2 linked regions of the Homo sapiens genome follow. The protein of the gene in region 2 interacts with the protein of the main gene of each other region in a pairwise test. Each region holds a gene or a part of one and is shown on either strand. Other genes may lie near its edges. The genes, in order: CYP4V2 and ZNF420.

Region 1 (3,830 bases), on a different chromosome or scaffold from region 2:
TAACTGTCCTCTAGGTAGAGTAGCTCATGGCAGCAGCTAAGTGCTCATCTGCTGGAACCTCAGAAAGCAGGTGGTGAGGAAGTGGACTTGCATGTCTGGGAGGTTAGAAGGAAGCCTGAAGCCACATGGAGAACTGAGAGCAATCTCTGGCTGCTCTTCTGCTTGGGAAAACTCTGACAAATCTTAGGTTTTCTTGAGGAAAAACAAATGTGTCTACTGCTGTGCCCAGCACTAGTCAAAATCGTTTTCTGAAGAAGTTGAGCTGGTACTTAATCAGTTTCTTAAATTTTGTAATTTCTAATTAAAATATAATGAATCTTCTTTAGTTAAACTACTTTAAAATTTGATTGTTTTAAAAAATAATGCTAAAGATTCTAACAATAACTGAAATTTGTTTAATGATATCTGAACCTAACAATATACAATACCTCAAACATGAAGGTGTCAACTTCTTCTCGAATATCTTCATGACTTAGCCTGTTCCCTTCGTCATCAGTCACACTTAAAAGCAAGTCAAGAAAGGCCCTGCGTTTATTTTTGGAGGGGGCAGAGCCCCTGCCATCACCTCTACAGTCTTCATTGGCGTTCATTTCATTGGCCCGTTCAGCGATGACCTGTATGATTTGAATGATAATCACATGCTTCTGTTTGGACTTGGATGCACCCTAGTTAACACATTTTCTTATAAAATATGCTAGTTTCTTTCATTTATTTTTCTAAGCCTATTTCAACATTTCGACAACATAGGCTCTTGTGAAAATACAGTAAAGCCTCATTAATATTTTGGGGATTATCTGGTGAAACTTTTAAAAACAAATTTAATGTCACGCAAATTCCTAATTTTCAAGTGCTATTTTTGCAGTCTTTCCAACACAAGAATAGAATCATAGTCTACTAGATAGTACCCTAGAGATTGGATTGCGCTAATGAGAAAAAGTTTAAGTGGTAGAGTGAATGCAATCATTATACAACAGTCTAATTATAGACTTAATTACATGTTGTAGAGGAGAAAAGAAACAGCAAGCAGATTAGTGAATTCACCCTCTATGCTTGCGATTTCTGCTGCCTGAAATGCTTTCCTCAGAGGCCTGCACGGCTGCCCCCTCCCTTCTTCCAGATCTCTGCTCATTGTCACACGATCAGAGAGACCTCCCTCATCCCTGCTACCCCTGTCCCTAGCACTGCGACGCCTCCTAACAATGCTTTTTCTCCATTTCCCTTGCCACCTGACATTATGTGATACTTCTGTCATACTTATTATTATAATGTGATATTATACTTACGTTATACTTATTATTTAGCATCTTTCTCTTACAACTCAAACACTGCCATGCTTGTGCATGTCTTTGTTCATTGATACATTTCCAACCTCTAGAGCACTGCTTGGCATTTAACAAATACTCACTAGATATTTCTTGGATGGATAAAAGAATGAAGGCCAATACACTTAATTTGGTTGTACATTTCAACCTTCTTTTCCTACCAGGTAATTGACCAAACCTGCTACTAAGTGGCCTGAATAGATTCTAAGCAATTTGAGGGCAAAACACCATGTCTTTTTTTATTCTTGGTGGAATTCCTAGAGCCCAGGCCTCAGTAGGCAATTCTCAATGTTTATTCAATGAATAAAATTGTCTATTCAGTCTGGAATTCATTTAATTATTGCTATTAAATATTAATGCACAAAATTTAAGGAAAAATATAATTATGAAATATAACCTGCTGGCTATTCTCCTATAACCAGGTGATCACACTCCACTGTGGCCAGCTCAGCCAACATTGCATTCATGGAACATCTACTGATTTATTCATCATTTGCTCTCTTGGGGGTAGGGTGTACTTCACCACAAGGACATAACTCCAATAGATTTTAACCAAAATTTACAGCAAAGAAAGGACATATTTAAACAGGCAGTTTTTTAATACACTGAAATTATAATTTGATGTATATTTTCAATTAAGTCTTGCTTTTTCAAAACACATTATTAACACAAAGATTGACATCCTATATTCAAAACAACATCACTATCTTCTGGTTATTTTTGAATTGGAAATAGAATACTAATATCTAGTTAGTTTTAATGTTTTCCATGTTAAGATACTGCTATCAATGCCCTCTGCCTTTGAAAATGACTGCCGAATCCAAACATTTTCCAGAAAACTCCTATACATAGATCTTTGTTCCTTTATTCTTTTACACAGCACCCTGTTTGTTCATAAGTGTTCACAGCTCATATCACATGTTGTAATTATGTGTTGATAGATCACCTCTCCTACTAGAATAACTTCCTTTCAGGTACGGACCATATACACATGTCCTACTCATTACTACATTTCCAACATTTGGTATGGTGGTTAGCACTTAGCGAGTACTTAATTAATATTTGTTGACTACATAATTGAAGTATACATTTTTATACTTAAGTATAATTTTTTATATGAAAAATTGTTTTCTATTATTATTCAAGTTTTATTTTCTGAGACATAGGCTCCATAGTCCTACACCGGGTATGTTAACAAAACATCAACATCATGGACTTACCAAAAGTTCTGGAAATGAACGGTGGGGATGGTTGCACAACATCGTGAATGCACTTAATACCACCAAACTGTACAGTTAAAATGGTTATAAAGGGAAATTTTATGTTATGTCTATTTTACCACAATTGTAAAAGTCAGGGACTTACACTGTTGGTAAAAGTATGTAGGATCTGAAGGCTCTTTTTGTGTTCCCATCCTTCTTTAAACATAAGGTACCAGAGATCAAGCCAAAGCCAGGGCATCTTTATTCTTCGAAATATCATCTCACTCATTCTATAAATGGGATAAAAATACATCAGCTGTTGTATCAGAAATGTGTATTTCTTGAGCACTTCTTTAGTACCTGGCCTTGATGAAGGCAATCGTGGGAATGACGATGATTGTCTTAGAGGCTACTAAGAGCTCCATGTTTTATGCTTAGCAGTGAAGGCATGGGCTATTACGCATCCCATGAAGCCTCAGAAAATAATGGGCTCTTTAAAGGAATGAAGGATTCATTATAAAACATCCTTACTAGATAGCCATTTGGTCTCTGCTTCTGCTTCTCCAGGGCAAGTTTCCCACTCTGCCTAGGACCTCTGCACCAGGGTTTGAGATGAAATCGGCCTCTTTTTAAGGTCCATCATTGGTCTGACCACTCCTCTGGAGTGACAGAAGACAACTGGCTGCCCTCTTCTACAAGCGAGGGCTCTCTAAGTACCCATCTGTCACTTGGCTGTCCCAGCACCTCCCTTTCATGTCCAGCCATAGAGCAGAAAGACCCCTATGTGATCTCCTGCAGGACCAGCTTAGGTGCCGGTTCTTCAGAAAGACCTTTCCTGGCCTCTCACTCTGTAGGACACTTTCTTGTTTTGCTCTCTGGTATCAATTTGATCTTTTCTTCCTGAGCAATTATTACAGTTCATGAATTTCTTTGTCCGTTGCCTGCCTCCTGTGTTATTCTGTTTTGTGTACTACTACAAAACCAGTCAGTACCCTGTGCAGTGATTGGAAAATCACAGATGCCTAATAAATATTGGTTAAAATGAAGTGAAATGAGCAGGAGACTTAAATATACTCAGCTCAATGCACTTCTCTGTACTTCATCAAGTCCTTGCCCTGCCTTTTAACAGGTGAATAATTGCAAGCAATTTTAGAGTAAAATTGACTGTTTCGATGACTAAAACAATACCTACTTGGTGCAGAAAATATGGGAAGAAGAATAACAACAAAAGGAAAGCACAAGAATGAGAAACACATACACGAGACAATGAGAAACACTGCTAACATTCTGTTATAATATCTGCTAG
Region 2 (3,830 bases):
ATGAAACAAAAATAATGCCCATTTTGTAGGTTAAAAAAAGAACAGAACTAAAATACCAGACAACAATACCAGATTGGAGAAACAGATCAAAGTTAAAGCATTTCAATATCCTTTAATTATCTTAAGGAAAGTTAGACATGAATTTTAGACTTCACTAAATTAAGCATGTATTTGTCAAGTGACACAAACAATAATGATAATTACTAAAGTACCAAAACAGGCAGAAATACCCCCAAAGTATTTAAATTCACCGGCAATGGCAGAAATGTTCTTCTGTTTTTCATCTACAAATCAACAAAGATATTTCTTTTTTTTTTTTTTTTTTGAGACAGAGTCTCTCTCTATCACTAGGCTGGAGTGCTGTGGCGCGATCTTAGCTCACTGCAACCTCCGCCTCCCAGGTTCAAGCGATTCTCCTGCCTCAGCCTCCTGAGTAGCTGGGATTACAGGCATGTGCCACCACACCTACCGAATTTTTGTATATTTAGTAGAGATGGGATTTCATCATGTTGGCCAGGATGGTCTTGATCTCTTGACCTCGTGATCTGCCCGCCTCAGCCTCCCAAAGTGCTGGGATTACAGGCGTGAGCCACCGCGCCTGGCCTTAACAAAGATATTTCTACGTGCTAATAGCCACTGTTGATAAAGTATATAATAGATATACATTGCTGGTATACTTCTGATAAGAATTCTGTGACAATAAAATATATATTTGACATAGAGATGTCAATTTCTTATCTCTCCTTAGAACCTCAACTAATTGCCACAAAGGTTACCAATTTATTTCACAGTAGATACTATTATTTATATGTCTGTTTTTCAACTTGCTGGCCTTGAAATCCTAGGGGTGGAGATAGAGCAAGTTTATTGCAAAGCAATATGCAAACCAAATATTGTATGTGGACTGAATAAATATGTTTTAGTATCCATCAAAATATATAATGTCCATTAAATATATAATTTTCAGACACAATTACAATCAATAAAAACTATAAAATACCATTGACATTAAAAGGAATTAGGTACACATGATAAAAATTTAAAGATAACTTTTAAAAATAAATAAATACTGTACGTTTTCCAAACAAAACAAGGGGGAAAATGGAGTTGCAAAAAATAAAACACGATTGTATCCACCCTCATTAAGGAGGGAGAAAGTTTTTTAAGCCCGTAAGATAAAAAGAGGAAACAAAAAGCATAAAATAGGGGATAAATAAATCCAAGTATATTGGTAATAAATTAAATGGAGTGAACATTCAATTAAAAAAAATTCTCAGATAATACCACAGTGCAGTGGTTATCAAACATGGCTAAACATTTGAAAAACCTAGAGAATTTCAAAAAATATGATACTCATGTACCATGCCTAGAAATTATTATTTAATTGGTCTGGGGTGTGGCCTGGGCTGTGGAATTTTTTAAAAGACCGTAGCTATTTCTAAAGTACACACAAGTTTGGCAACCATTTCCATATTATTTCTGCACAATTCAGTGGCTTTTAGTATACCCACTGAGATGTGCAACAATCACAACAATCTAATTTTTAAACATTTTTTCACCCCCAAGAGAAATGCTGTCTGTGTTCATTAGCAGTCACTTCTCATCTCCCCACTCCCCATTCTCCATCTGTTCTACCTCTTCCCCATCCCCAGTGCTGGGTAACCAGTAACCTACTTTCTGTCAGTATAGATTTCCCTATTGAGGACGTTTCATATAAATGCAATCATATAATATGCAGTGTTTGTATTTGGCTTCTTTCACTTGGCATGGGATATAGTTTGGATGTTTGTCCCTTCCAAATCTCATGTTGATGTAATCTAACATTGAATGTAATCTCCAGTGTCAGAGGTGGGGCTTGGTGGGAGGTGTTTGGATCATGGGGGTGGATCCCTCATGAATAGCTTCGTGCCATCTTTGTGGTAAAGAGTGAGTTCTTGGCCGGGTGCACTGGCTCACGCCTGTAGTCTCAGCACTTTGGGAGGGAGGTGGGCGGATCACGAGGTCAGGAGTTTGAGACCAGTCTGGCCAACAAGGTGAAATACCATCTCTACTAAAAATACAAAAATTAGCTGGGTGTGGTGGCAGGTGCCTGTAATCCCAGCTGCTGGGGAGGCTGAGGAAGGAGAATCGCTTGAGCCCAGGAGAAGGAGGTTGCAGTGAGCCAAGATTGGGCCATTGCACTCTAGCCTGGGCGACAGAGCAAGACTCTGTCGTGAGTTCTTACGCTATGAGTTCACGCGAGATGTGGTTGTTTAAAAGAGCCTGAATTTCCTCCTCTCTCTCTTGCCCCCTCTCTTGCCAGTGACACACCGACTCCCCCTCCCTTCCACCATGACTAAAAGCTTCCTGGACCTCACCAGAAGCCAAGCAGACACTAGTGCTATGCTCGTACAGCCTCCAGAAGCATGAGCTAAGTAAATCTCTTTTTATTATAAATTACCCAGCCTCGGGTATTTCTTTATAGCATGTTTCCAAGGTTCATCCATGTTAAAGCATGTATCAGAACTTCATTCCTTTTTATTGCTGAATAATATTTCGTTTTAAGAAAATACCAAATTTTATCCATTCATTAGTTGATGGACATTTGGGTTGTTCCCACTTTTTGGCTATTGTGAATATCAAGATATAGTGCACTTCTGCCTTCAAATCTTGAGAATGCCTGGTACTGTCAAGCTGCCAATTTATAGCATGTGAAATAACTATATCATTGTGGTTTTAATTTGCACTTTTTTTTTTTTTTTGAGACAGAGTCTCCCTCTGTCGCCCAGGCTGGAGTGCAGTGGCACAATCTCGGCTCACTGCAACCTCTGCCTCCTAGGTTCAAGCGATTCTCCTGCCTCAACCTCCAGAGTAGCTGGGATTACTGGCATGCGCCACCATGCTCGGCTAATTTTTTGTATTTTTAGTAGAGACGGGGTTTCTCCATGTTGGTCAGGCTGGTCTCGAACTCCCGACCTCAGGTGATCCGCCCTCCTCGGCCTCCCAAAGTGTTGGGATTACAGGTGTGAGCCACCGAGCCGAGCCCAAAGTTCTTAATATGTAATATTCAACTACCAAGCACATACAAGACCGCGCCCGGCCAACCATTCCCTCTTTTGAAAGTGGGAAGAATGATAATAAAAACCAACAGGGAAAGGACGCAGTAGAAATTAGGTAAGAGTCTTTAGGAAGATCATGGTGAAAAACCCTTGCTTTTCTCCTCAAGTCATAGGTTTTTTTCCACACCACTTGGGTCCTCTAGGGACATGTGTTAATCACTGACTTCCTAAAGGCTTCAGAGGAGAAAGGAAGGAAGAGGCAAGAGACAGTTTATTCCAGCACAAGGAATAAAGTTATCATGTAGGTTGGAAAATCACTTATTAAAGTTGTAATTGATACGGATTTTGTTTCATATAAAAATACTACAGAAGAAAACAATAAAGTTTCTTAGACAATCACAGGTTCCCCCTCAACTATTTTACAATAAAAGATGATTCTAGCATATTCATTCAATGTCCAATGCAAGTTCTTTTTTTTTTGTTTTTTGAGATGGAGTCTCGCTCTGTCATCCAGGCTGGAGGAGTACAGTGATGTGATCTCAGCTCACTGCAACCTCCACCTCATGGGTTCAAGCAATTCTCCTCCCTCAATCTCCTGAGTAACTGGGATTACAGGCACACACCACCATGCCCAGCTCAATTTTTGTATTTTTAGTGGAGATGGGGTTTCGCCATGTTGGCCAGGCTAGTCTTGAACTCCTGACCTCAGGTGATCTACCCACCTTGGCCTCCCAACGTGCCGGGATTATAGGCGTGAGCCACCGAGCCCAGCCCAAAGTTCTTAATATGTAA

Evidence for each region.
Region 1: the proteins of ZNF420 (region 2) and CYP4V2 interact in a two-hybrid assay, tested with the Homo sapiens proteins (one large-scale study listed by BioGRID and IntAct).

The regions. Positions count from the first base shown.
Region 1 is NC_000004.12:186,197,941-186,201,770, reverse strand, and holds part of CYP4V2 (cytochrome P450 4V2), read right to left. Parts: intron 2,815-3,830; coding exon 2,688-2,814; intron 615-2,687; coding exon 429-614; intron 1-428. UniProt on the Homo sapiens protein: A cytochrome P450 monooxygenase involved in fatty acid metabolism in the eye.
Region 2 is NC_000019.10:37,091,625-37,095,454, reverse strand, and holds part of ZNF420 (zinc finger protein 420), read right to left. Parts: intron 1-3,830. UniProt on the Homo sapiens protein: May be involved in transcriptional regulation.